Linked DNA regions of Homo sapiens. The protein of the gene in region 7 interacts with the protein of the main gene of each other region in a pairwise test. Each region holds a gene or a part of one and is shown on either strand. Other genes may lie near its edges. The genes, in order: COL17A1, KCTD21, ZNF263, SKIL, ZSCAN1, ZNF474 and PPL.

Region 1 (3,500 bases), on a different chromosome or scaffold from region 7:
ACTTCTTGGAGTGCAAGGTGGGTTTTCTGACACTTGCTGATTGTTTGAAACAATTAACACTTGCTAATATTTAAGGTAAAAATGCCCATGTTATAATTACCTTTAGGGCCTGGACTTCCCATGTCACCTGAAACCAGAAAGATATGAAAACTGTGAGATGGGGCAAGAACCCAAAGGCCATACTCTGCCTTGTATTTTAAAACCATTTGACAAGATGTAAACTGTATTTCAAGGTGAGGCGACATGCGGCGAGTCCCTCCCAGTCCCAGAGTCTATGTCATTTGGGCTCATTGCTGGGCTTCTCTTAGATGCTGCCTTATCTAAGATATTCTGACTCTAAAACCAACAGATACCTCCCAACAGATACCATAAGATCATTCAGCTCTTCATCCTTCCATTTAGAACAAAGAAAAAGGCTTCTAATCTACCCAGAAAACTCACTTCCAACTGCAGGAAATGAATCAGAGACAAGGTTCAATCCATGGCAATACCTTTAGGGCCAGGGCTTCCTCGGAGATTTCCTGCAAGAAAAAGCAAATCCTGAGTCAGCTTCACATCTCCTGTCACACACACACACACACACACACACACACACACACACAATAAGGGGATCATGGTATGGGAAGAAGAAACTGAGGCAAAGACTAGAGATCAGATTCTAAATTTGGCTAGTCCAGTGATCTTGAGCAATTATTCTTTCCAGAACTCAGTTTTTCCAGGAGTAAAGTGGGACCACAGTCTTGGTCCCACCTACCTCTCAGCGCTATTGAGAGGATCAGGGGAGGAGAGAGGCCGAGAGTGGGCCGGATGATGGTGCTCACAGCACATGCACACATACCACATAGATGCAAAGAAGAAAGGGACTCAGGGGAGCTGGCCCTGTGCCCGGCGATGCTCTCACCATTTTCCTGTTCCATCATTAGCTTCTTCCTCACGAACATCCAGAGCTCCTCCTGGCTGTCACTGTGCAGCCCAATTTTGTCCAGGTCTGCTCCCGCCGCGGGTGCCATGCCCTGGAGGCGGTCCTTTTCTATTCTATCCATGCTGTCCCCATAGGGCAGTATGCTCCTCCTGATCCTCTCCAGCTCATCCACACGCGCCTTCAGCTTCCTCACCTCCTCCGCTGCAACAAACAGACACACACTGCGTCACTGAGGGCCCGGTCCTTCGCCTTCCATACACTCGCTCCTAGTGGAGAGCCTGACACAAGGGATTGGGGCCTGTGGTGGCTTCTTCATGCTAGAATACTCATGCAGAGATAATCTGCCGTGGCCACCAGCAGGATTAGCTGCTCAGCATCACAGCAGAGCCTTAAAGAAACCTGGCCTGGGAGTCAGTCTTCTCATCTGAGCTGGGTGACAAAGCTTGTCCTCACTCTCCCTGTGAGGTGGTGTGAGAGCTGATAGAAATAGATATGGCTGGCCAGGCGCGGTGGCTCAAGCCTGTAATCCCAGCACTTTGGGAGGCCAAGGGGGGCAGATCACGGGGTCAGGAAATCGAGACCATCCTGGCTAACACAGTGAAACCCCATCTCTACTAAAAATACAAAAAATTAGCCAGGTGTGGTGACATGCGCCTGTAGTCCCAGCTACTCAGGAGGCTGAGGCAGGAGAATCGCTTGAACTCAGGAGGCGGAGGTTGCAGTGAGCCGAGATTGCACCACTGCACTCCAGCCTGGGCGACAGAACGAGACGCCGTCTCAAAAAAAAAAAAGAAAGAAAAAGAAAAGAAAGAAAAGAAATAGATATGGCTGCTTGGAAACAGCAAAAGTCAAAAAGGCTAAGAAAGTCCTGACCTTGTTACCAAGGGCAGCCAGGTGCTTAGACCAGGGCCTACAGGTGTAGCAAGGGTGGGGCTGAGCATCAGGCGCTGCATCCAAATTCAGCTCCACCACTAAGTGGCAGCATGTCCTTGGCCAGGTACCTCCTGGGGCCTCAGTTTACTCATCTGCGGTAACAAGGGTCTGCACCAATGCATTCAGGTCCCCTCGCCCCCTAACACGTGGGCCCATTCACAGATTCCTGCCCTTCTGACAGGCAGTGGGGCTGGCCTGCCTCCTACCACACAGGCTGCCCTGCTGCCTTTGCCACGTACCCAGAGCAATGAGGCCGAAGAGCAGCCCCAGGAGTAGCAGCCAGGTGAGCAGCAGGCCCAGCAGCCACTTCCACCAGCTGCAGCAGGAGCCGCAGGGGCACCAGGCTGGCGCTGGTCCCCAAGGGCCGCCGCCAGCGCCACCAACACCGCCACCTCCTCCACTGCCACCACCACCACTGCTGCCGTAGCTGTGGATATCTGTGAAAGAGACAGGGAAAATGAAGCAAATGCAGGCAGCTCCTGCCTTTTCCCTCCAGATTCTCTGACTTTTGGTGACTTTCTGGCCTGAGTGACTACGACTGGGGGCTTTCAAGTTCCTGTGCTGTTCCACCCAGGACAGGGCTGGCTCCTGGACTGAGCACAGGGCCTGACTGGTGCTGACCAGAAGTCTGGCAATCCTGGCTCCAGCTGTGTGAACCTGAGAAGGTCACTTCACCTTTGTTTCCGTTTTTATAACATGGGGTTAAAAGATTGCCTCCTTCTTGGGAAGGTTGTTGAATGAAATAGGACAAGGAATGTAAAATAGTAGAGGAGTTAGCAGCACAGCACGAGGCTTAAACATCTTTATTTTGAATATAGCATTGGTCTGCATCTGACTGGGCCCAAACCTAGAGCGTTCCCATCTCCATGCCTCAGTTCACACAGTGCTTTCTTTAATCCTTACAGTGCCTAGAATTATACTCAGCTCTTCAGGGGTGCCTAGTGAATTAAAACAATGTTTTTTGTAATGAAAAGTGTTTTTAGTTCCCTAAAATGGGGTGGTAGGACTTGACCTGCTTCTATCACACGGCGGTGGAAGGAAATGAGGAAAGGCTAAGGGGCTGGAGGCGTGCATGGCTTAGTCTCTTCTTGAGCTGCTGTGTAAAGACACAGTCACCCTGTTGTGTTAGGAGACAACCTAACTAACAAGTGTTAATTAGGGGCAGCTGGGGGCGGGGGGCCTGTTAGCTTCATCCCCTGAGCTAAGCTCCTTCTGCGGCCACCTCTGACCCACAGCCTGCCACTCCCCTGACCCCCACCCTGCTCCCTTCTGAGCCTTTAGGGAAACTCTTTAGAGTCTGGTGGCTTCTGTGCACTGCACTGCTTCCAGGCGAGGGACCATCATCTGGTCCATTAGCCATAAGCAGCCCCACTGGATCCTGTCACTGCAGGGTTCGCGGTTCTCACCCACCTGCAGTGGTGGTCTTGCCCTTTGTGGACACAGTCTTCAGGTCTCCTGAAAGGACAAACAGATTGACCTGAGCTTTTAAACTGGAGGAGCTAGCTGCTCTGCCTATGGAGTAGCCATTTTTTTATTCCTTTACTTTCTTAATAAACTTGCTTTCAACGACGTGCAGGAACATCCAGCATCTCAGTCCTCACTAATCTGATATTTGCGATAATTACATCCATGAAGACATGGCTTG
Region 2 (3,500 bases), on a different chromosome or scaffold from region 7:
TCCAAGTGGAGGTGGCCAGGAGGCATCTGGGAACACATAGGGGACTGAGGCTCAGTGGTGTTAGTTCATTACTACCTGACTGCAAACCTCCGCCGACTCATGAAACTCCCCTCGTGTCATGTCATTTTGCCTTTTGTAGCAGGGCCGTGGATTTGTGATGATGGACACTGTGGCCCTGTGGCTAGAAAATAGGGGCTTAGACCAGGCACGGTGGCTCACGCCTGTAATCCCAGCACTTTGGGAGGCCGAGGCGGGCAGATCACAAAGTCAAGAGATCGAGACCATCCTGGCCAACATGGTGAAATCCCATCTCTACTAAAAATACAAAAATAAATTAGCCGGGCCTGGTGGCGTGCACCTGTAATTGCAGCTACCCGGGAGGCTGAGGCAGGAGTGTCGCTTGAATCTGGGAGGCAGAGGTTGCAGTGAGCTGAGATTGCGTCACTGCACTCTAGCCTGGCGACAGAGCGAGACTCCATCTCAAAAAAAAAAAAAGAAAAGAAGGGCTTAGAGGACTGAGCTCTGTGACTGGATAGGTAAGGGGAGATCACCACAGAGAGCACCCTAGACTCGGAGCAGGAGACCTGCCTGCTAGCCAGCCTCTGCCCTGACTGCCTGTGCAACTGTGCTGCTCTCCCCAGACAAATGACCGGGAGCCATGACGTCATCGGGGGCGCAGGAAAGCAGGTGCTCTGCTGCTTTTGCAAGCAGAGAAATAAGAGTTTGGGCACCTACCCAGGGGTCCCAGGGAATGCCCTGTGGCTCCTGACCTCCCCCGCCTGTAATGCTCTGAGCACTTCAGCAGTAATGCATGGAAGAGATAAGGGTCTGTGACCCATGGAACTGTCCAAGTCCTCTCTGACACCCGCTTCTTTTCCTGCCGTGAAGGTAAGCCACTTTATAGATCCTAGGCCTGAAACCCAATGTTGGGAGGGAGTGTTTGTTTTCAAGAAGAAAGAGAGACTGAAACTAGAACATGCACATTTCTATCCAGAAGAAAACAGTTGGAGTAGACTAGAGTCCTACAAAGAGGGCAACAGGGAAGAAGATTCTGGACTGAGTAAAGGGGACCCACTCCTGGGTCCACCTCCTGCCTGGGCCCTCTGGAGAGAGAATTGGCCAGATTCAGCCCTGAGTCACAGCACCCTCCCCAGTTGCTGCCTCACAGCCATCTCCACACCAGCAGCCATGCCCCCAGCGGCAGCTCGCCCACACCTCTGTGGGACCTCCCCACCGTCTCGCAGCCCATCTGCTCCAGGCTTCTACTGACGATTTCGTATTTCACATGGACTCATTTCTCCTCAGACACTCCAGATGGGGAATGCCTTTCTGCAATATCAAAGTGCCCCATTAGACTGGGGAGGAATCATGAGGGGACATACCCCTGCCCCTGCCACAGAGTCGAGCATGGCAGCTGAATATCTCTCACACTGGCATGGCCCCCATCCTCTGGAGAAAGGAGGCCTCAGTGCAGTCAGCCTCTTCAGGAGGCAGAAATGTTGAGAAGTTCTCGCCACCCCTGCTGGGTGACTTTGGGGAGGTGTCTCCTCAGACCTCTGTTTCTCCATCTGGACGGTAAGCATGCTTGAAAGGTTGGGTTTTTGTTTGTTTTTTGAGACCGGATCTCCCTCTGTCTGCCAGGCTGGAGTTCTGTGGCGTAATCACGGCTCACTGCAGCCTCAACCTCCCAGACTCAAGCGATCCTCCCACCTCAGCCTCCCAAGTAGTTGGGACTACAGGTGCTCGCCACCACACCCTGCTTTGTTGTTGTTGTTGTTGTTGTTGTTGTTGTTGTTGTAGAGACAGGATTTCGTCATGTTGGCCAGGCTGGCCTTGAACTCCTGAGCTCAAACGATCTGCCCACCTCGGCCTCCCAAAGTGCTGGAATTACAGGCATGAGCCACTGTGTCTGCCAGCCAGATAGTTTTTGATGTGCCAAGGTTCATTCCAGACCATCTCCCACATCTTCTACCTGTCTTGTCACTGTGCCTTTACTCTCTCATCTCCTCTACCAGCACAGGCTCTTCTGGGGGTAATACTGGGGCCAGTTCCTCTTGGCATCCCTACCTGCCATGTCAGGGAAGGATTGCTGAATCTGGTCCACAGGTTGGCTCTGGGGAAAGTATAGTGTTGGAAGCTGGAGCTGAGATCTCCTGTTTTCTAGAACATGTGGTGAAGGAGACTTGCCAGCCATAGATGCTGACAGCTGAGAGATTAGGGGGGCTTTGTTAAGGAGTGGATAGGGTGCCTTCAGGAGAGTGCTCTGACAGAGTCCTGCATTTGCACTGACCTTGCAGCCAGTTTCAGAGAAGCTTGGGGTGTTATGACAGCAAAGGACAGGCCACCAGGAGCCAAGAGCATCTTCATGGCAAGGCAAGTCAGCATGGGAGCAGTGAAAGTCTAGAAAGGATTGTCATTCACATGCACACGTATGTTTATTGCGGCACTATTCACAGTAGCAAAGACTTGGAACCAACCCAAATGTCCAACAATGATAGACTGGATTAAGAAAATGTGGCACATATACACCATGGAATACTATGCAGCCATAAAAAATGATGAGTTCATGTCCTTTGTAGGGACATGGATGAAATTGGAAATAATCATTCTCAGTAAAGACTACTGCAAGGACAAAAAACCAAACACCGCATGTTCTCACTCATAGGTGGGAATTGAACAATGAGAACACATGGACACAGGAAGGGGAACATCACACTCTGGGGACTGTTGTGGGGTAGGGGGAGGGGAGAGGGATAGCATTAGGAGATATACCTAATGCTAAATGACGAGTTAATGGGTGCAGCACACCAGCATGGCGCATGTATACATATGTAACTAACCTGCACATTGTGCACATGTACCCTAAAACTTTAATAATAATAAAATTTAAAAAAATTTAAAAAAAACAGGATTGTCATTTGCAGTCCGGACAGCTGAGTGACCCACTGTGGGCCTTGAAGATAGATGGAAATGACACTAATCATGGCCATTCATTGTCAAATCTTTGAGAGAGAATAATAATTAAATTCAGCAGTGTCACTGGTACAGAAGGAGGAGCACTGAGCCTGGAGTCATAAATCTCAAACCATTTGTTGAGTACTTAGAACCGATCTTTGGCTAGTAAGCATTTACACATTTTTCTTTCATATAAAAGGACCTGAGTTTGAATCCTGGCAAGGCACTTCACCTTTCTGAGCTTGAGGAATGAATCCTGGCACAGTTTTCCTCATCTGCACAACAGGAATGGATGATTATATTGTCTGTGTCAAAAGATGATACAACCTTTTTTTTTTTTTTTTTTTTGAGACAGAGTTTCACTCTTGTTGTCCAGGCTGGAGTGCAGTTGTTCAGTCCCGGCTCACTGCAACCTCCACCTCCTGAGTTCAAATGATTCTCCTGCCCCAGCCTCCTGAACAGCTGGGATTACAGGCACCCACCACCATGCCCAGCTAATTTTTGTATTTTTAGTAGAGATGGGGTTTCACCATGTTGGCCAGTCT
Region 3 (2,735 bases), 1.6 Mb from region 7:
AATTTTCAGATGCTTATTCTTATGAGCTCGCCAGTGTTTCCTGTGTTCCGTTAGTGTTTCTAGGCTCGTCCCCAAAGACAAAAATTTCAGGGGTAGTAGGATCAACATTCCAGCCTATCATCTCTCACAGCCCATAAAAATTCAGAAAGTGGGGAGGGTCTTGTGGAAATTTGGAAACAATGTATAGCTCCAAAGTAGGCCATATCATAAATTAAGATTTACCTATGTCTTGTACTGTACTCAGAGTTTTAAAATTATGCCTACGGAATATGACAGACTGACATATAGTTGGATTTAGGTGGAGGATATGCTTGTATTTATTGTACAATTCCCTCAACTTTTCTGTATGTATGAGAATTCTTTTAATAAAAAGTTGGGGAAGTCTTAACATAAAACAAGACTGTGTGTACATTATGATTATACCTATGTTGAAACACACCAGTAGAAAGACTCACTGGTGTGGTGGTGGTAGTCCCAGTTACTCAGGAGGCTGAGGGGAGAATCACCTGAGCCCAGTAGGTCAAGGCTGCAGTGAGCTATGATGATGCCACTGCACCTCAACCAGGTGACAGAGTGAGACTCTGTTTCAAAACAAACAAGACACACCGCACATTGTTTCCATATATCAGGTTTGCCTAAAAAGTATCACAACTGTACATTTGTTGACACTAATTCTGCAAACGCAATCTTGCTCACTGCAACCTCTGCCTCCCGGGTTCAAGTGATTCTCCTGCCTCAGCCTCCAGAGTAGCTGGGATTACAGGCATGCGCCACCACACCCGGCTAATTTTTTGTATTTTTAGTAGAGACAGGATTTCTCCATGTAGGTCAGGCTCATCTTGAATTCCCGACCTCAGGTGATCCACCCGCCTCCCAAAGTGCTGGAATTACAGGTGTGAGCCACCACACCCGGCCTTTTTTTTTTTTTTTTTTTTTTTTGAAGTGAGTCTCACTCTGTTGCCCAGGCTGCTCTGGAACTTCTGGGCTCAAGCAGTCTTCCTGCCTTAGTCAGGAAGTGTGCCACTGTACCAGTTTCCATATTACTTTTCACTGCTGTGATGTCCAAAGTTGAACATGGCCCTTTTAGTGAGAGATGCTAAATAGGAAAAGATCAGATTACAGCTTGTTGGAATTAAACTTCTGTTGGAGTCCATGTTTGCTGGAGGTGGAGGTTTTTGTTTTTCTTTTTGGCACAGCATAGAAATGGCACTTGTGGGTTTTAATCTCATGGTCCTCTTAGAGCCCTGGGTCCTTTTCTGATTGTCTATTATGTTATATTTTCTTTCCCTGGAGTTGTCCGGTCAAATTTAGTTCTATTTTGTATTTATATGTAGAGACAAGGCCCTTTTATGATATTAAATGGATTATTCAAGGAACTGACCATGTTCATTTTATAGTTATTTCAATTACAGTAGTGTACATTCTCATTGCAAAAAAAAACATTCCAAGTACCATGAATATTTAAAAAAAAAAAAAATTGGCCGGGCGCAGTGGCTCACACCTGTAATCCCAGCACTTTGGGAGGCCGAGGCAGGCAGATCACTTGAAGTCAGGAGTTCGAGACCAGCCTGGCCAACATGGTGAAACTCCATCTCTACTAAAAATACAAAAATTAGCCGGGTGTGGTGGTGCACGCCTGTAATCCCAGCTACTTGGGAGGCTGAGGCAGGAGAATCGCTTGAACCTAGGAGGCAGAGGTTGCAGTGAGCGGAGATCGTGCCACTGCACTCCAGCCTGGGCGACAGAGTGAGACTCTGTCTCAAAAAAAAAAAAAAAGTCTCCCTCCCCTAATTTCTTTCTCTAGAGGTATCCACTGGGAACAGTTTGTGTATATTCCAAGTAACTGCTGTCAGATTTATGGAGCATTCTGTATTTATCCACTGAGGGCAGGGAACAAGACTGTTTCCCTACCCTGGTAGAGGAAAGTGGCAGTACAGAAATCTGTTTCTTTCATTGTGAACAGAGTCTCACATTCCCAGTCAGGAGGTCCCAGGCACCCAGGTGGGACAAGGAGGAAAGCTATGGGATCCCAGTGTCCAGAGCTGCAAGGAGGGCCTGAGCCCCAGAGGCCCAGCTCCAGGTAAGGAATGAAGACAAGTGGCCTGCGCAGCAAGCAGCAAGGCTCTTGCAGTTAAGAGTGAGGCATTTTTTGGTTTTGTTTTGTTTTGTTTTGAGATGGAGTGGCACTCTTGTTGCCCAGGCTGGAGTGCAACAGTGCGATCTCGGCTCACTGCAAGCTCCGCCTCCCAGGTTCAAGCGGTTCTCCTGCCTCAGCCTCCCGAGTAGCTGGGATTACAGGCATGCGCCACCACGCCCAGCTAATTTTTTGTATTTTTAGTAGAGTCGGGGTTTCTCCATATTGGTCAGGCTGGTCTCCCTGACCTCAGGTGATCCACCCACCTCGGCCTCCCAAAGTGCTGGGATTTACAAGTGTGAGCCACCGCCCCCAGCAGAGTAAGGCATTTGAGGATTTGGGTGCAGGGCCGGCCCAGCACAGCTGCTAGAGAGGTACATTACGTCCTTTGACCCTGCCATTCTCCATCCCAGTGAGGCAAGTGAGGAACCCAGGGTGCAGAGTTCAAGGAGGCCCTTATTCTTGAGCTTACTTGTCCCACCCTACTCTCAGCCCTGCTCCATCCCACCCATTCCTGAAGGGCAGAATCGAGAGGCTCAGGTGGAAAGGAAAATTCTAAGACTGGTCTCGGCTCTGATTCCTTGACCAGTGGCCCGACCCT
Region 4 (3,500 bases), on a different chromosome or scaffold from region 7:
CCACCGCGCTTGGCCGTGTTAGTGTTCTTTGAAGCACAAAAGTTTTAAATGTTTATTACATCCAATTTATCTATTTTTTTCTTGTTTTAGGTATCATATCTAAGAAACTATTGCCTAATCCCAATTCCAAGAAATATTTATTTATGTATTTATTTATTTATTTATTTATTTTTGAGACAGAGTCTCACTCTGTTGCCCAGGCTGGAGTACAGTGGTGCCATCTCAGCTCACTGCAACCTCCACCTCCCGGGTTCAACCAATTTTTCTGTCTCAGCCTCCTGAGTAGCTGGGATTACAGGTGCGCGCCACCATGCCTGGCTAATTTTTTTTGTATTTTTAGTAGAGACAGAGTTTTACCATGTTGGTCAGGCTGGTGGTGAACTCCTGACCTCAGGTAATCCACCTGCCTCGGCCTCCCAAAGTGCTGGGATTATAGGCGTGAGCCACCACATCCAGCCAAGAAATTTATGTTTAAGGGTTGTAGCTCTTACATTTAGGTCTTTGATCAGTTTAGAGTTAATTTTTGTATACAGCATAAGGTCCAACCTTATTCTTTTGCATGTGGATATAGTTGTCCGTATGTTGAAAAGATTATTCTTTCCTTTTTTTTTTTTTTTGAGACGGAGTCTTGCTCTGTTGCCCAGGCTGGAGTGCAGTGGCGCTATCTCGGCTCACTGCAAGCTCCGCCTCCCAGGTTCACGCCATTCTTCTGCCTCAGCCTCCCGAGTAGCTGGGACTACAGGCGCCCGCCACCAAGCCTGGCAAATTTTTTGTATTTTTTAGTAGAGACAGGGTTTCACCATGTTAGCCAGGATGGTCTCAATCTCCTGACGTCGTGATCCGCCCTTCTCGGCCTCCCAAAGTGCTGGGATTACAGGCGTGAGCCACCGCGCCTGGCCAGAAAAGATTATTCTTTCCTGACTGAATTGCTTTGGCACCTTTGTCAACAACAATTGCCTTATAAAGTATGAGTTTTTTAAATTTCTGGACTCTGAATTCTGTTCTACTGATCTGTATGTCTATCTTTAAATCATGTCACACAGTCTTGATTTCTGTAGCTTTGTAGTAAGCTTTGAAATTGGGAATTGTGAGTCTTTCAACTTCGTTATTCTTTTTCAAGATTATTTTGCCTATTTTGGGTTTGTTGCATTTCCATATGGATTTTAGAAACTGCTTTTCAATTTCTGCAAAAAATCCAGTGGGGATTTTGATAGGGATTGCACTGATAAGTAGATCAATTTGGAGACTATTACTGTCTTAACAATATTAAGTCTTCCAATCCATGAATTTGGGATGTCTTTCCATGTATTTAGGTCTTAAATTTCTTTTAGTGATGTTTTGTAGTTTTCATTGTACTTGCACTGCTTTTGTTAAATTTATTCCTATTTTATTTGTTTTGGTCTAATTTATAAATGAAATGTTTTAAAAATTACATTTATGGATTGTTCTAGTGATTTTTTTAATGGAGTGATATTCATACTTTGTTACTTGATTTTTTTCTCTCCAAGATGCATCAATCTCAAATAATTCTACAAGTAAAAGGAAATCTGAGTCTGCCACTTGCAACTTAGTCAGAGACATAAACAAAGTGGGAATTGGCCTTGTTGCTGCCGCTTCATCTCCGCTTCTTGTGAAAGATGTCATTTGTGAGGATGATAAGGGAAAAATCATGGAAGAAGTAATGAGAACTTATTTAAAACAACAGGAAAAACTAAACTTGATTTTGCAAAAGAAGCAACAACTTCAGATGGTAAAATTGTTATCTAAATGATAGTCCATTATGAAAAGATACTTTTGTATATTGCTCTGTCGCCCAGGCTGGAGTGCAGTGGCGCAGTCTCAGCTCACTGAAACCTCCACCTCACAGGTTCAAGCAATTCTTCTGCCTTAGCCTTCCGAGTAGCTAGCATTACAGGCACGTGCCACCATGCCTGGCTAAATTTTGTATTCTTAGTAGAGATGGGGTTTCTCCATGCTGGCCAGGCTCGAACTTTTGACCTTGTGATCCACCAGCCTTGGCCTCCCAAAGTGCTGGGATTACAGGTGTGAGCCACTGCGCCCAGCCCCCCTGTATATTCTTAGTAAGAAAAGTCAAAACGAGATGCTACAAATGTACTTAAGATTATTGTTTTACACTGAAAAGCAATTTTAATATATTTTAAAATTTTTTGAGAAAATAGTTTTTTAAAATAATTACCTCTATATAGAACTGATAATGATAGCTGAATTTTAGGTATTTTCTGTGCTATGTTTTCCAGAACTGAAAATTTTAACATGGTGAAAATAAAGTAAAACTTGTATTGTGATTCTTTACATTACAGGAAGTAAAAATGTTGAGTAGTTCAAAATCTATGAAGGAACTCACTGAAGAACAGCAGAATTTACAGAAAGAGCTTGAATCTTTGCAGAATGAACATGCTCAAAGAATGGAAGAATTTTATGTTGAACAGAAAGACTTAGAGAAAAAATTGGAGCAGATAATGAAGCAAAAATGTACCTGTGACTCAAATTTAGAAAAAGACAAAGAGGCTGAATATGCAGGACAGGTAAGAATTACTGTTTGTATAATGGTGCCCTTTCAGCATGGAAATGGAAACTGTTACTTCTCTCTTTTTTTTTTTTGAGACAGAGACTGCTCTGTCGCCCAGGCTGGAGTGCAGTGGCACAATCTCAGCTCCCCACAACCTCTGCCTCCCGGGTTCAAGCAATTTTCCTGCCTCAGCCTCCTGATTGTAGCTGGGATTACAGGCGTGCGACACTATGCCCAGCTAAATTTTGTATTTTTTAGTAGAGACGGGGTTTCACCATGTTGGTCAGTCTGGTCTTGAACTCCTGACCTCATGATCTGCCCACCTCAGCCTCCCAAAATGCTGGGATTACAAGCATGAGCCACTGCACCCGGCCACCGTTACTTCTCTAATAAAGGAATTACTTTTTGTCAAGCTCAGTTTACTAAGCTAGATTTCAAAATAGATAATTCTGTTAAACATAGCTTTATGCTGTATTGTCCAAGATGATTATTTTGATGTTTGTTGCTTTTATTAGTTTAAATTTTTATCGGGTTACTGCAGTTTAGTTACCTAAATTGCTAATCTCTAGCCCTCTGAATATTATATGTTATATTATTTTAATGTAGTATATGAGCTTTCAAATCTACAAATTAACAAACAGGAACTGTTGCCTGTTATGTTCAAAAGCACTGGAGCAAAAATAAGCAATTCTCTTTTGTTAATAGAATCTCACAATTTAAGGAACATGAACAAATAACTAACATGAGCAGGCTGTGATGAGCGGTATAGTAAAGTATAGGGCATAATGAACATGAACATGCTGGATGTGTTCCTTCCTCTTGTTCCTTTGCTTTTTCTTAAATTTAGTGTCCTGTCAGATGTCAGATTAATAGTATTAGATGCTTAATGGATTTAGTATACATGAAATAGTTCGTTTTGTAAAAAGTAATTTGAAAATAGATATTTTCTATGATATGAGGATTAAATGGA
Region 5 (3,500 bases), on a different chromosome or scaffold from region 7:
ACCTTGGACTCTTCCCATCTTCCTCCTCACCGAAACTCCAGTCCTGGGGTTCGACCGAGTCCAGAGATACCAGAACTGTGCGGGAGAAAGGGATCGTGAGAGGGGCCTGTTCTTCCCAGAGCCCCCAATTCTCCAGGCCTTCTGGGGAGGGCAGACTTTCCCCGAACATCCCTGCAGCACCCCTGAGGCGCAGGCAAGAGTGGCTGCAGGGCTGTCATTCTGTCCCTCCATGTGGCTGCTGGGCAGGAACCTGTGGTGACACCGAGGGCCGCTGAAGACAAGTACCCTCTTCACTCATACTCCACACCCCTGTGCGCCTCCAGAAGCCCACGAGGACACACACTGCAGCACTGACTAACTAGGGAGGCCCGAGCACTGTGAGCCCTCTGCTCCCCAAGCCCCCCGGGGCTGTGTGCACAGAGTGCACAGAGGACGACTGCTGAAGCAGGGTTCAGGACACCATTGACAGAAGGGTCAAGACGTGGGAACCAGGCCAGGCGTGGTGGCTCACACCAGTAATCCCAGCACTTTGGGAGGCTGAGGCAGGAGGACTGCTTGAGCCCAAGAGTTTGAGAGCAGCCTGGGCAACACAGCAAGACCCCCCCCTATTTATTTTTTAATTAAAAAAAGAAAAATTCAAGATCACGGCCACCTCTGGGGTGTCAGGCAGAGCGGGGGACAACAGGACTAGGAGACGTGCATGGGGGTTCAGCTGATTCCACTGGTTGTTCCTTTTTTTTTTTTTTTTTTTTTTGAGACGGAGTCTCGCTCTGTCGCCCAGGCTGCAGTGCAGTGGCGTGATCTTGGCTCACTGCAAGCTCCGCCTCCTGGGTTCAAGCGATTCTCCTGCCTCAGCTTCCTGAGTAGCTGGGATATAATATAGGCACGCGCCACCACGCCCGGCTAATTTTTGTATTTTTAGTAGAGACGGAGTTTCACCATGTTGGCCAGGCTAGTCTCGAACTCCTGCCTTGTGATCCGCCTGCCTTGGCCTCCCAAAGTGCTGAGATTACAAAGCATTTCCTAGGTTGGGCTTTGATAAGGGTGGGTGGCCGGTGCAGGGCTGTTCATTATACTTGCTCTACTGTTTCATAGGCTCAAAATATGGAATGTAGAAAGCAGACCACCGCTATGGAAGACAGATAGAGAGCCCTTTGCTCAAAAACGTTGAATTTTGAGAGTGACCATGGAACATTAAAACTAGCAAGGGTGGCTCTGGGCTGGGATGGCTGTGAGGTCCACAGAGCGCCAGAAGCCAGTGCTCTTGGGCCCTCTACCCCAGGATCAGAGAGTTCAAAGGGCCAATTCATCTGGCTTCTGCCTTGCAGCTTACAGGGCTACCCTTGAGCCTCTGGAAAGCTCAGCTGTCACAGCTTTCCTAAGTGTGGCACCGGCTGCCCTGGGGCAGTAAGGGGACCCTGGACCCTGTGTTCTGCAAACTGCTTATCACTGTTGGTCTACGGAAATGCTGTAGTGGGAGGGTGCAAAGGGAGGGCCTGTTCCTCTCCCTTGCTCCACCCCTCTTTTCTGTGAGCTCTGATGCAACCCTTCTCACTCCCAGCCTTTGCTCCTGCAGCGTGGCTGCCTGGCACCCTCCTTGCTGGGGCCCTGCTGGGGAAGCCCTCCCGAGGCCACAGTGCCACGACTGCTCTCACCATCCGTGGCTGCCTCTTTTGGCCTCCCAGTGTCCAATCCCTGCACTTTTGTCACTAGGAAAGAAAGAGCCCCACTCATGGGACTGGGCCCTGGGTGGATGGAATCTCGACGTGGGGTCACAGGGGCAAAGATGCAGAAGGACAAAGCCCTGTCAGGGGAGAGGGGAGCTGAGAGAGGAGACAGGGAGGGAGCCCAGTTTCAACCCCAAATTTCCCAGCTCCCAGAGTCGGGATGCAGACCTAAGCGTCTCTCCCCACCATCAGCCAGCGATGGGGCCTGCGCCCTGTGAAGGCTTAAGGATCTCTAGGATTCCTGAGTGTTGCAGGAGGCGCTGCAGGTGGCTGGGAGGAAGTGGCGAGGCAGCGTCCTTCCCAGAGAGCAGCCGTGAGGAGCAGCAGACACAAAGCCACAGGACAGATGGACGCATGGGAAATGGAGGGATCTTTAATCACCGACTGAGTGAGAAATTCGAGGCAGATGAGGCGTGCAGCACATTTATATGTAAAAATAATTAAAAACACAGCCGCGGGGCAGGAGAGGTTTGCTGGTCGGGAGGGGCCGGGCAGGGGTGGGAGCGATGTGGGCGGGAAGGAGGGCAGTTCGGTCCTCGGAGACGTCAGGCCCCCTGGCCCGGCCCGGGGCAGGAAGCCTGCGCCTCTCACCTTCCTGCTGGCACATCTGTGTGAGGTCCTCCACCAGGCTGGCGGCCTCCCTGCAGCTTCGGGGGCCCTGTGACTGCACCCAGGTCCGCATCTTGCTGGGCAGCGCGCCCAGGAACTGCTCCAGCACCAGCAGCTCCAGCATCTGCTCCTTGGAGCGCGCCTCGGGCCTCAGCCACTGGCGGCACAGCGTCCAGAGCTGGCCCAGCGCGAGGTGCGGCCCGCTCGCCACGTGGTACTGGAACTGCCGGAAGCGCAGACGCTGGGCTTCGGTGTCCCTGGGGCTTGCTGGCCCAGGGTCTGCGTCCTGCTCACTCGGGGTTGGGGTCTGGGGGCGTCTGGGGGAGGCAGGGGCTTTGGGCCGTGGAAGCATTTCTCTGGCCACAGTGCCCCTCTGAGGGGTGTGTGTGGACTGGATCCCGAGTCCCAGTGGCTCCGGACAGAGCCGGTGTGGCAGGCGGACAGAATCAGCAATCAGGGGCCTGCAGAGAGGGGCAGGGACAGAGGGGTCACATCAGATGGTGGCCCTCTGTACTCAGGATGCCCCTCGGCTCCTTACTTCCTTGTTCTGACCTCCAGCACCCCAAGGAACCAACCTGACCTCTTCCCACCTTCTGACCTAATCTTCCACATGCCTCTCACAGGCTACTTTGCACTGAGTTCAAGCCACTGGCTGCCCCAGGACCTTTGCACCTGCCATCCCACCCCAGCCCCTCCCCTTCCCACCCCAGCTCCTCCCCTCGCAGATGTCCTGGCCATCATCCTTATGGCACTGTCTTCATAACCTCCATGACTTTCTGAACACAACTTTTCCCCTTACTTAGTGTCTATCTCCCTCTCATTTAGTCATTCAACACACATTGACTGACGAGCTGCGGGAACAAGAATGCCTGCCCCGTGGTGTGGCCAGCACTGCCCAGTGAAGTTCCTACAGGGATGTAAAGATTCTCTACCCATGCAACCACCTACGTGTGGCTAGGAGCACCTGAAATAGGAACTGAATTTTAAATTTAAATTCCATTTAAATGGAAGCAGCCAGGTGGGCTACATAATAATGGATGACACCACCACCAGCAGCAGGTCTACCCATGGTGTTATCTTTGCTGTCTTCCTGACTTTCCTACCAGGTCCAAGCTGGGGGTGGAGACCAGGAAGAGGGCAAGGGAGACTGGAGACTCTGAAAAG
Region 6 (3,500 bases), on a different chromosome or scaffold from region 7:
AAATCTGAAATTTGAAATAACATTATTAGGATGAATTGTGCTAATCACCAGTATTAAAATACAGATATCTCTCAATTAGTATTAGGTTTCCATGTGAATAACAGACTCTTAAAAATGGCTAAAATAAAAATAAAAATTTACTTTTCTTATGTAAATAAAGTCCAAGAAAGGCACTCCAGGGCTTCTATGATGGTTCCAGCATTACCAGGGACCCAAGTCCATCCAGGCCTCTGCTCTGTCATATCAAGTGTTACATAAATGAAATCTGTTCTCAACTGGCTGCTAAAGCGCCAGTCATCACATCCATCTTCGAAGCATCAGTAAGAAGGAAAGGAAGAGAAGCAATTGTTCTCTTCTTCCTTTTCAAGAATTGTTCTTACAAGTTCCACACAATATTTTCACTAACTACAAAGGAGCTTGTAGATGTGCCCAGCTGAAAGTTGGGGCTCTATTAATTGAGGGAGTTGAGTGGAATGGCTATTGGTAAGGAACTAACTGTCTCTGCCGGACATTAGAAGGGACATTATCTCATCAATTATAAGCCTTGGTGTAAATGAGTCCATCAGTTCCTTTTTGAAAGCAAGATTTCATAGGTAAGACGGACTGGTGAGCATACAAGAATACTAGGCTGGAGAGTGGAGGCTGCTGAATGGGGTGGGTGAACAACATTGAAGATGAACCTCCTCTATTTTAGAATCTTGATCAGAGCCACCATCAGCCCCAACTCCATCTTTCTTGTTTATGTTTTTGTTCATTTAAAGAATTTGAATTCAATACTAATAGAGAAGGGATCATATCATGTATCAACTATATTTCTTTTGTTTCAAAGGGCTAGATTTTTTTATATACTTTAAGTTCTAGGGTAAATGTGCACAACGTGCAGTTTCGATACATAGGTATACATGTGCCATGTTGGTTTGCTCCACCCATTAAATCATCACTTACATTAGGTATTTCTCCTAATGCTATCCCTCCCCCATCCCCCCACCCCACAACAGGCCCCCATGTGTGATGTTCCCCGTGCTGTGTCCAAGTGTTCTCATTGTTCAGTTCCCACTTATGAGTGTGAACATGAGGTGTTCGGCTTTCTGTCCTTGTGACAGTCTGCTCAGAATGATGGTTTCCAGCTTTATCCATGTCCCTGCAAAGGACATGAACTCATCCTCAAAGGACTAGATTATTTTTTAAAAGATATGATCACACTTTTCATTGTGTTCTGTTCCCTCTCTTTTAGAGAGACACCTTCTAATGCCAAGATGGTTTTTGGATTTCCACGGTTATTACATTCTTCTTTGTGTGTTTGTCTCTCCCTTCCCATGAACCCTGAAGAGAATGGAAAAATGGCATCATGTTGATAAAAGGTGATGCCTTCCAGGACATTCTGTAAATGTCCTATGTGCAGATATGGTCAAAACGAATAATTCAGGCCAACTGAGTGAACATTTCTCCAGAGATGCTTGAGGTAAAACTGTCTGGCTTTGCAAAGTGGTTCTCTTTATAAACTAGCAACATTGCTTTATGACGTTTTGGGTGACAGGCCAATTTCTTATGTGATTTAAGTATATGCATTTAGTATTTTCCAGCACTTTTGCTTTTAGAGCTAACTTATAAAGGGAGAGCAACCAACACTGCTGTGCCATGGCATGTTGCCTTTGCACAGTCACTGGCAGAAACATTACGCATTTCTCCATAAGACACCTCCGTTCCCAAAAATTTCACTGGCTTCCAGCTACCTCATCTTTCATATTTTGATACCTTTAGTCACAATAAGGGAAAAATTTCAGGAGAACATTGGAGAAGGAAAGGGATGGTAGAAAAAGAAAAGTTGAAGATTCAAATGGACGTTTTGTGATGTTTCATCGTGTTTGCTGCAGAGAAAATATTTGCAGTGCACAAATGTTTGTGTGCGGTAAGATCTATCCCTAATCAAATGGTGACATGGCTTCAAACTGAGCACTACCTGGCCTCTTGGGGCAGCCTTCACTTTTACCCTGTGCCCATGATCAAGACAGACAAAACACATCATTCATCGTTGGTCTGCCCCATTCCCCCAACTGGTCCCTACCTCTGCTGGTTATGTAGATTTTTCTGAAGATATTGGTGAAATTAAGAAAAGAATCTGTACTGCACATCACTCAGGAAAAACTACATCTAGAAAACAACTGTATATGGCAAAAGTGATTCTTTTTTTTCTTTTTTTTTTCTTTTGAGATGGAGTTTCACTCTTGTCAGCTAGGCTGGAGTGCAATGGCGCGATCTTGGCTCTCTGCAAACTCTGCCTCCCGGATTCAAGCGATTCTCCTGTCTCAGCCTCCTGAGTAGCTGGGATTACAGCCACCATACCCAACTAATTTTTGTATTTCTAGTAGAGACGGGGATTCACCATGCTGGCCAGGCTGGTCTCAAACTCCAGACCTCAGGTGATCCGCCCACCTCGGCCTCCCAAAGTGCTGGGATTACAGGCATGAACCACCGCGCCCGGCCTGGAAAAAGTGATTCTTAATGCAGAAACAGAAAACCAAATACCACACGTTCTCACTTATAAGTGGGAGCTAAACGTCAAGTACACGTGGGCATAAAGATGAGAACAACAGATAGTGAATGCAAGCGGAGGAAGGGCTGAAAAACTACCTATTAGGTACTATGCTTACTACCTGGGAGACAGATTCATGTGTACTCCAAACCTCAGCATTACACAATATGCCCATATACCAAACCTGCACATGTACCCCGAACCTATAATAAAAGTTGAAGAAAAAAAGTCCCCTGTCACTTAACATTGAAAACATTGTGTTCCATAGCCCCAGTCTCTCTCTTCTGCTTTGTCCCTCTCAGAGGCTTCTCCTCTGTGCCTTGTCTGCACTCCTCCTTCTTGCCTCTTCTTTCTTCTAAAAGGAAGCATAACAGCTGGTGAGAGCTTAGTTACCTTCCCCTGAGGCATATGGATAATACATTAAAACAGGGATAAAAACTAAAGGGAAGAAGCTCTGCTGGAGGAATTTAGGCAGAATGAATAATGGAAAGAGCCACGTATTGGAGCCAAAGAGAGCTGGAATTGATTCACAGTTCTGTCATTTAGAAACTGACAGTCTTGGGCAAATTACTTGTCTTTTCTGAGTCAGTTTCTTTACTTATAAAGTTGAAATAATAATACCTGCTTCATAATCATTTGAGAATTAACTAAAATTATGTTTACAAAAAATCTGTGCCCTATCTGGCATATAATTGGCATTCAGTAAATATTACCTCTCTTGCCTTATCAAAAGGGAGATGGAGGGGTTGCTGGGGAAAGTCATGGGGATTTCTCAGTATTCTAATCTGCTGGAAACAGAATTGACTCTGTGTGTGTGTGTGTGTGTGTGTGTGTGCGCGCGTGAGAGAGAGAGAGAGAGAGAGGGAGGGAGAAAGAGACAGAGAGAGAGAAAGAGAGGCAGAGACAATTTAGGGGAAGGAGGCTTATTTGATTGCATTGATTTTTCTAATCTGTCTTCTTAAGTCAT
Region 7 (3,500 bases):
GATGGTGCAGGTGACCGAGGACAGCCTCCAGCCTAGTAGAGAGGCCCTGGAGGAGACCCGCTGCCACCCTCCTGGCTGTGCGACCTCAGAGGAGCTGCTTGGCTTCTCTGAGCCTGTTTTCTCACCTGTGGGATGGGAATAAGCACGGTGCCTGCCTGGCGATGTTGGCTCAGGATTAAATGAAATAATGCAGGGGAAAGGTTGTGAATGATAAGCGGCCGCAGGTAATAGCATCTGTGACGATTACAGTTATTAAGCAAATGCGGGCAAGCTAGCTGTGGTGTACCCAGGGTTAAACTTGATATCATGGTGGACAGGCTGTGCACTGCACAATTCCATAGGCACTGTTGCTGGGTTTTAGCACGTGGTCGTGGAGGAGACGTGGACAACCTCCCTGCACTTGAGTCGCTGGCAGTCACATCACAGAGATAAGATGGAGTTAAGCTTCAGTACATGTATGGTTACATGAGCGTCGGACTGATGGGGCCAGGCAGGAGCAATGGAGCATAGAGCCGGACAGATGAGGTCTCCACCCTGGCCACTCACATACTTTGTGACAGGCCTCAAGTGAGAGTTGTCACAGTCAGAGCACAGATGCTGGGAGGTGAGGGAGGACTTCACAGAGGAGGCATCTGACCTGTCACGGGGTGGGATGGAGTGGCCAAGACCCAGCTCTGCAGTCAGGCTCAATTCTGCCTCTGCTTGAAAAGAAACATAGCATCCCTGAGCCCCAGCGCTTCTGAATTTGTTGAATGGGATTAATCTTGCCCCTCCACCCAGACCTGGGTCCCAGTAAACACCCAGCAGCCTGGCCTTGCCTAGACGGGTCTTGCAACACTGGGGCCGCCCTGATGGAGCGCTCCTGCATGGGAGGCAGGACCCCAGGCTTTGAGGGGAGAGCTGGCAAAAGGGAAGCATGCTCTACTGGGAGGCACCTGGGGTACCCTGAGCCTCTTAGTGGTTAAGAACACAGTGTTTTATTAGCTGGGCATGGGGGTGGGTGCCTGTAGTCCCAGCTACTCAGGAGGCTGAAGCAGGAGAATCCCTTGAACCTGGGAGGCAGAGGTTGCAGTGAGCTGAGATTGTGCTACTGCACTCCAGCCTGGGTAAAAGAGTGAGACTCTGTCTCAAAAAGAAAAAAAAAAAAGCAAGAACACAGTGTTTGATGCTAGCTGGGCATGAGTTCAGGCCGCAGCTCTGGGTCTCTTAAGCTGTTTGATCTTGGGCAAGTCACTTAATGTCTCCGAGCCTCAGTTTCTTCATCTATGAGGTGGGGTGACAACAGCAACCCCCAGTTGGTGAGGCTGCTGGGTAGATCAAATGAGGGGATGCACATGATGGGTCCAGCCCATGACCTGGTTCAGAGCGAGTGCCCGGCAAATCATAGCAGCCAATACTAGGAAGCACACACTGCTATTAAGAGTCATGACGGGCTGGGCGCGGTAGCTCACGCCTGTAATCCCAGCACTCTGAGAGGGTAAGGCGGACGGATCACTTGAGGTCAGGAGTTCAAGACCAGCCTGGCCAACATGGTGAAATCCCATCTCTACAAAAATAAATATTAAAAATTAGCTGGGTGTGGTGGCGGAAACCTGTAATCCCAGCCAGATACTGGGGAGGCTGAGGCAGGAGAATCACTTGAACCTGGGAGGCAGAGATTGCAGTGAGCCGAGATCACACCACTGCACTCCAGCCTGGGAGACAGAGCGAGACTCCGTCTCAAAAAAAAAAAAAAAAGATTCATGACTGAGCCAAGCCCAGAGCTGACCAGGGAGCTGACTCAAGCAGACACGCACATGCACCCATCGATCAGTGTTGGTAGGAACGCCTGATCGATATGGGAGGGGACCCATGTGGGTAACAGCTTAGAGAGAGCCGCCCCGCCATTTCTCAGGCACATACTGTGAGCCCAGCAAGGCCATGGATGTTACATCTCATTCTGACAGCGGGCCTGCCATGCAGGTGGAAGTGTCCTGTTTCACAGAGGGCTCACATTCACCTTGAGCTCACAGCTCACAAATGGCTGATGCTGGAAGTCCAGGGGGGCCTGGGGAAGCAAATGAGGCCTCCCCACTCGTACCTGGATCTGGCAGCAACTGTGCCTGGGGACTGCTCCAGGCCAAATGGTAGAGTCATTGGTGTTTGTGCTCACTGCCTCTACCCCCAGCAACCCCCTCTACCTCTCTTCTCTCTAGCTTTGCCCCTCCATCCCTTGCCCAGTTCTCTTGGAAGAAGGAATGAGACTGGATAAATTCGATTCAGGACAGAGCTGAGCTTACCTGGAGGAACAGCTGCTAATGGTAGCATTTCAGGCACTGTCGGGCGGATCATGTTGGGAAAGGGTATTTTGGGGGAGAGACTCAGCTCCGTCCACACCCTTTAAGCAATACCCTAAGGGTGTGGTTGGGGGAGGCCCTGGAAGTAGGGGACCTGGGGGAGAAGCTGCTTTAGAGAGCTTCCAAAGCTCCTCGTCTGGGGAAGAGAACCCTGGCTTCCCAGCGTGCAGCTGCTCTCTGCTCCCGGCAGGTCTGTGCCGGTGTTACCGGCACCACCTTGCATCCTCCCAGCCTGCCTGCCCCGGCCTGTCTTGGGAGCGAATGGGGAAACGGCCTCTGGTCTTTGTTCTCCCGGCTTCTGATGGGTTGCTGTGCTGCAGCCTCTGGAGCCCGGGAGGCCACCTGGTGCCCCTTTCTGCCTCCGGGTGGGACAAAGCTCTCTTCAGGTCCCAGCCCTGCCCTTCCCTACCCCAACCTATTTTTTTTAAGTGTTCTTTCTTTATTCTTTAGAGACAGGCTGTCACTGTATCACCCAGATTGGAGTGCAGTGGTGCGATCATAGCTCACTGTAGCCTTGAACTGCTGGGCTCAAGCAATCCTCATGCCTCAGCCTCCCAAGAAGCTGGGACTACAGGTGTGCACACCACCGTGCCCCGCTAATTTTTAATATTTGTAGAGATGGGGTCTCACTATATTGCCCACTCTGGTCCTGAACTCCTGGGCTCAAGTGAGCCTCTTGCCTTAGCCTCCCAAAGCACTGAGATTACAGCCATGAGCCACTGCACGCAGGCCCTTTCCCTTTAAATGGATCCCCACTTCTCCCTGCCTGCAGAGCCAGCAGCCCAGCAGGCCTCCAGTCCCTCTTCACTGTTCCTTCTTCCACTCCAGCGCTCCAGTCCCTTCTCCCCATGGCAGCCAGGGAGCTCCTTACGACATAAATCTGACCATACCTCCAGCTGCTTAACCCCTGCCCCAGACCTCTCTTTGCTCTTAGGCCCTGGGAGCTGGTGCCCTGCACATCAACATGTGCCTGTCACCGTCTTGTTTCCACGCTGTGCCCGGCCACAAGGCCTTTCCCTCTGCCATTCCTGTTGCCCAGAATGCCCCTCCCACCCCTTTTCACTGCTTCTCTTCCACTTCCAGGTTTACCTTCTGTTCCTCAGGGAAGCCTTCCCCAACCTCTCTGCTGGGGTAGATCCACCTATTCTATGGACTCCCCTTCTC

Evidence for each region.
Region 1: the proteins of PPL (region 7) and COL17A1 interact in a two-hybrid assay, tested with the Homo sapiens proteins (one study listed by BioGRID).
Region 2: the proteins of PPL (region 7) and KCTD21 interact in binary tests that used the Homo sapiens proteins (3 or more experiments, as listed by UniProt).
Region 3: the proteins of PPL (region 7) and ZNF263 interact in binary tests that used the Homo sapiens proteins (3 or more experiments, as listed by UniProt).
Region 4: the proteins of PPL (region 7) and SKIL interact in a two-hybrid assay, tested with the Homo sapiens proteins (one large-scale study listed by BioGRID and IntAct).
Region 5: the proteins of PPL (region 7) and ZSCAN1 interact in binary tests that used the Homo sapiens proteins (3 or more experiments, as listed by UniProt).
Region 6: the proteins of PPL (region 7) and ZNF474 interact in binary tests that used the Homo sapiens proteins (3 or more experiments, as listed by UniProt).

Annotation. Positions count from the first base shown.
Region 1 is NC_000010.11:104,054,881-104,058,380, forward strand, and holds part of COL17A1 (collagen alpha-1(XVII) chain), read right to left. Parts: intron 3,311-3,500; coding exon 3,266-3,310; intron 2,293-3,265; coding exon 2,095-2,292; intron 1,124-2,094; coding exon 902-1,123; intron 522-901; coding exon 492-521; intron 128-491; coding exon 101-127; intron 1-100. UniProt on the Homo sapiens protein: May play a role in the integrity of hemidesmosome and the attachment of basal keratinocytes to the underlying basement membrane. The 120 kDa linear IgA disease antigen is an anchoring filament component involved in dermal-epidermal cohesion.
Region 2 is NC_000011.10:78,175,127-78,178,626, reverse strand, and holds part of KCTD21 (BTB/POZ domain-containing protein KCTD21), read left to right. Parts: intron 1-641; exon of another isoform or gene 642-1,496; coding exon of another isoform or gene 1,497-1,575; intron 1,576-3,500. UniProt on the Homo sapiens protein: Probable substrate-specific adapter of a BCR (BTB-CUL3-RBX1) E3 ubiquitin-protein ligase complex mediating the ubiquitination and subsequent proteasomal degradation of target proteins. Promotes the ubiquitination of HDAC1.
Region 3 is NC_000016.10:3,286,491-3,289,225, forward strand, and holds part of ZNF263 (zinc finger protein 263), read left to right. Parts: intron 1-1,963; coding exon 1,964-2,080; intron 2,081-2,735. UniProt on the Homo sapiens protein: Transcription factor that binds to the consensus sequence 5'-TCCTCCC-3' and acts as a transcriptional repressor.
Region 4 is NC_000003.12:170,388,715-170,392,214, forward strand, and holds part of SKIL (ski-like protein), read left to right. Parts: intron 1-1,508; coding exon 1,509-1,750; intron 1,751-2,321; coding exon 2,322-2,546; intron 2,547-3,500. UniProt on the Homo sapiens protein: May have regulatory role in cell division or differentiation in response to extracellular signals.
Region 5 is NC_000019.10:58,037,025-58,040,524, reverse strand, and holds part of ZSCAN1 (zinc finger and SCAN domain-containing protein 1), read right to left. Parts: intron 2,798-3,500; coding exon of another isoform or gene 2,689-2,797; coding exon 2,319-2,688; intron 76-2,318; coding exon 1-75. UniProt on the Homo sapiens protein: May be involved in transcriptional regulation.
Region 6 is NC_000005.10:122,146,546-122,150,045, forward strand, and holds part of ZNF474 (zinc finger protein 474), read left to right. Parts: intron 1-2,778; exon of another isoform or gene 2,779-3,500.
Region 7 is NC_000016.10:4,930,649-4,934,148, reverse strand, and holds part of PPL (periplakin), read left to right. Parts: intron 1-3,500. UniProt on the Homo sapiens protein: Component of the cornified envelope of keratinocytes. May link the cornified envelope to desmosomes and intermediate filaments. May act as a localization signal in PKB/AKT-mediated signaling.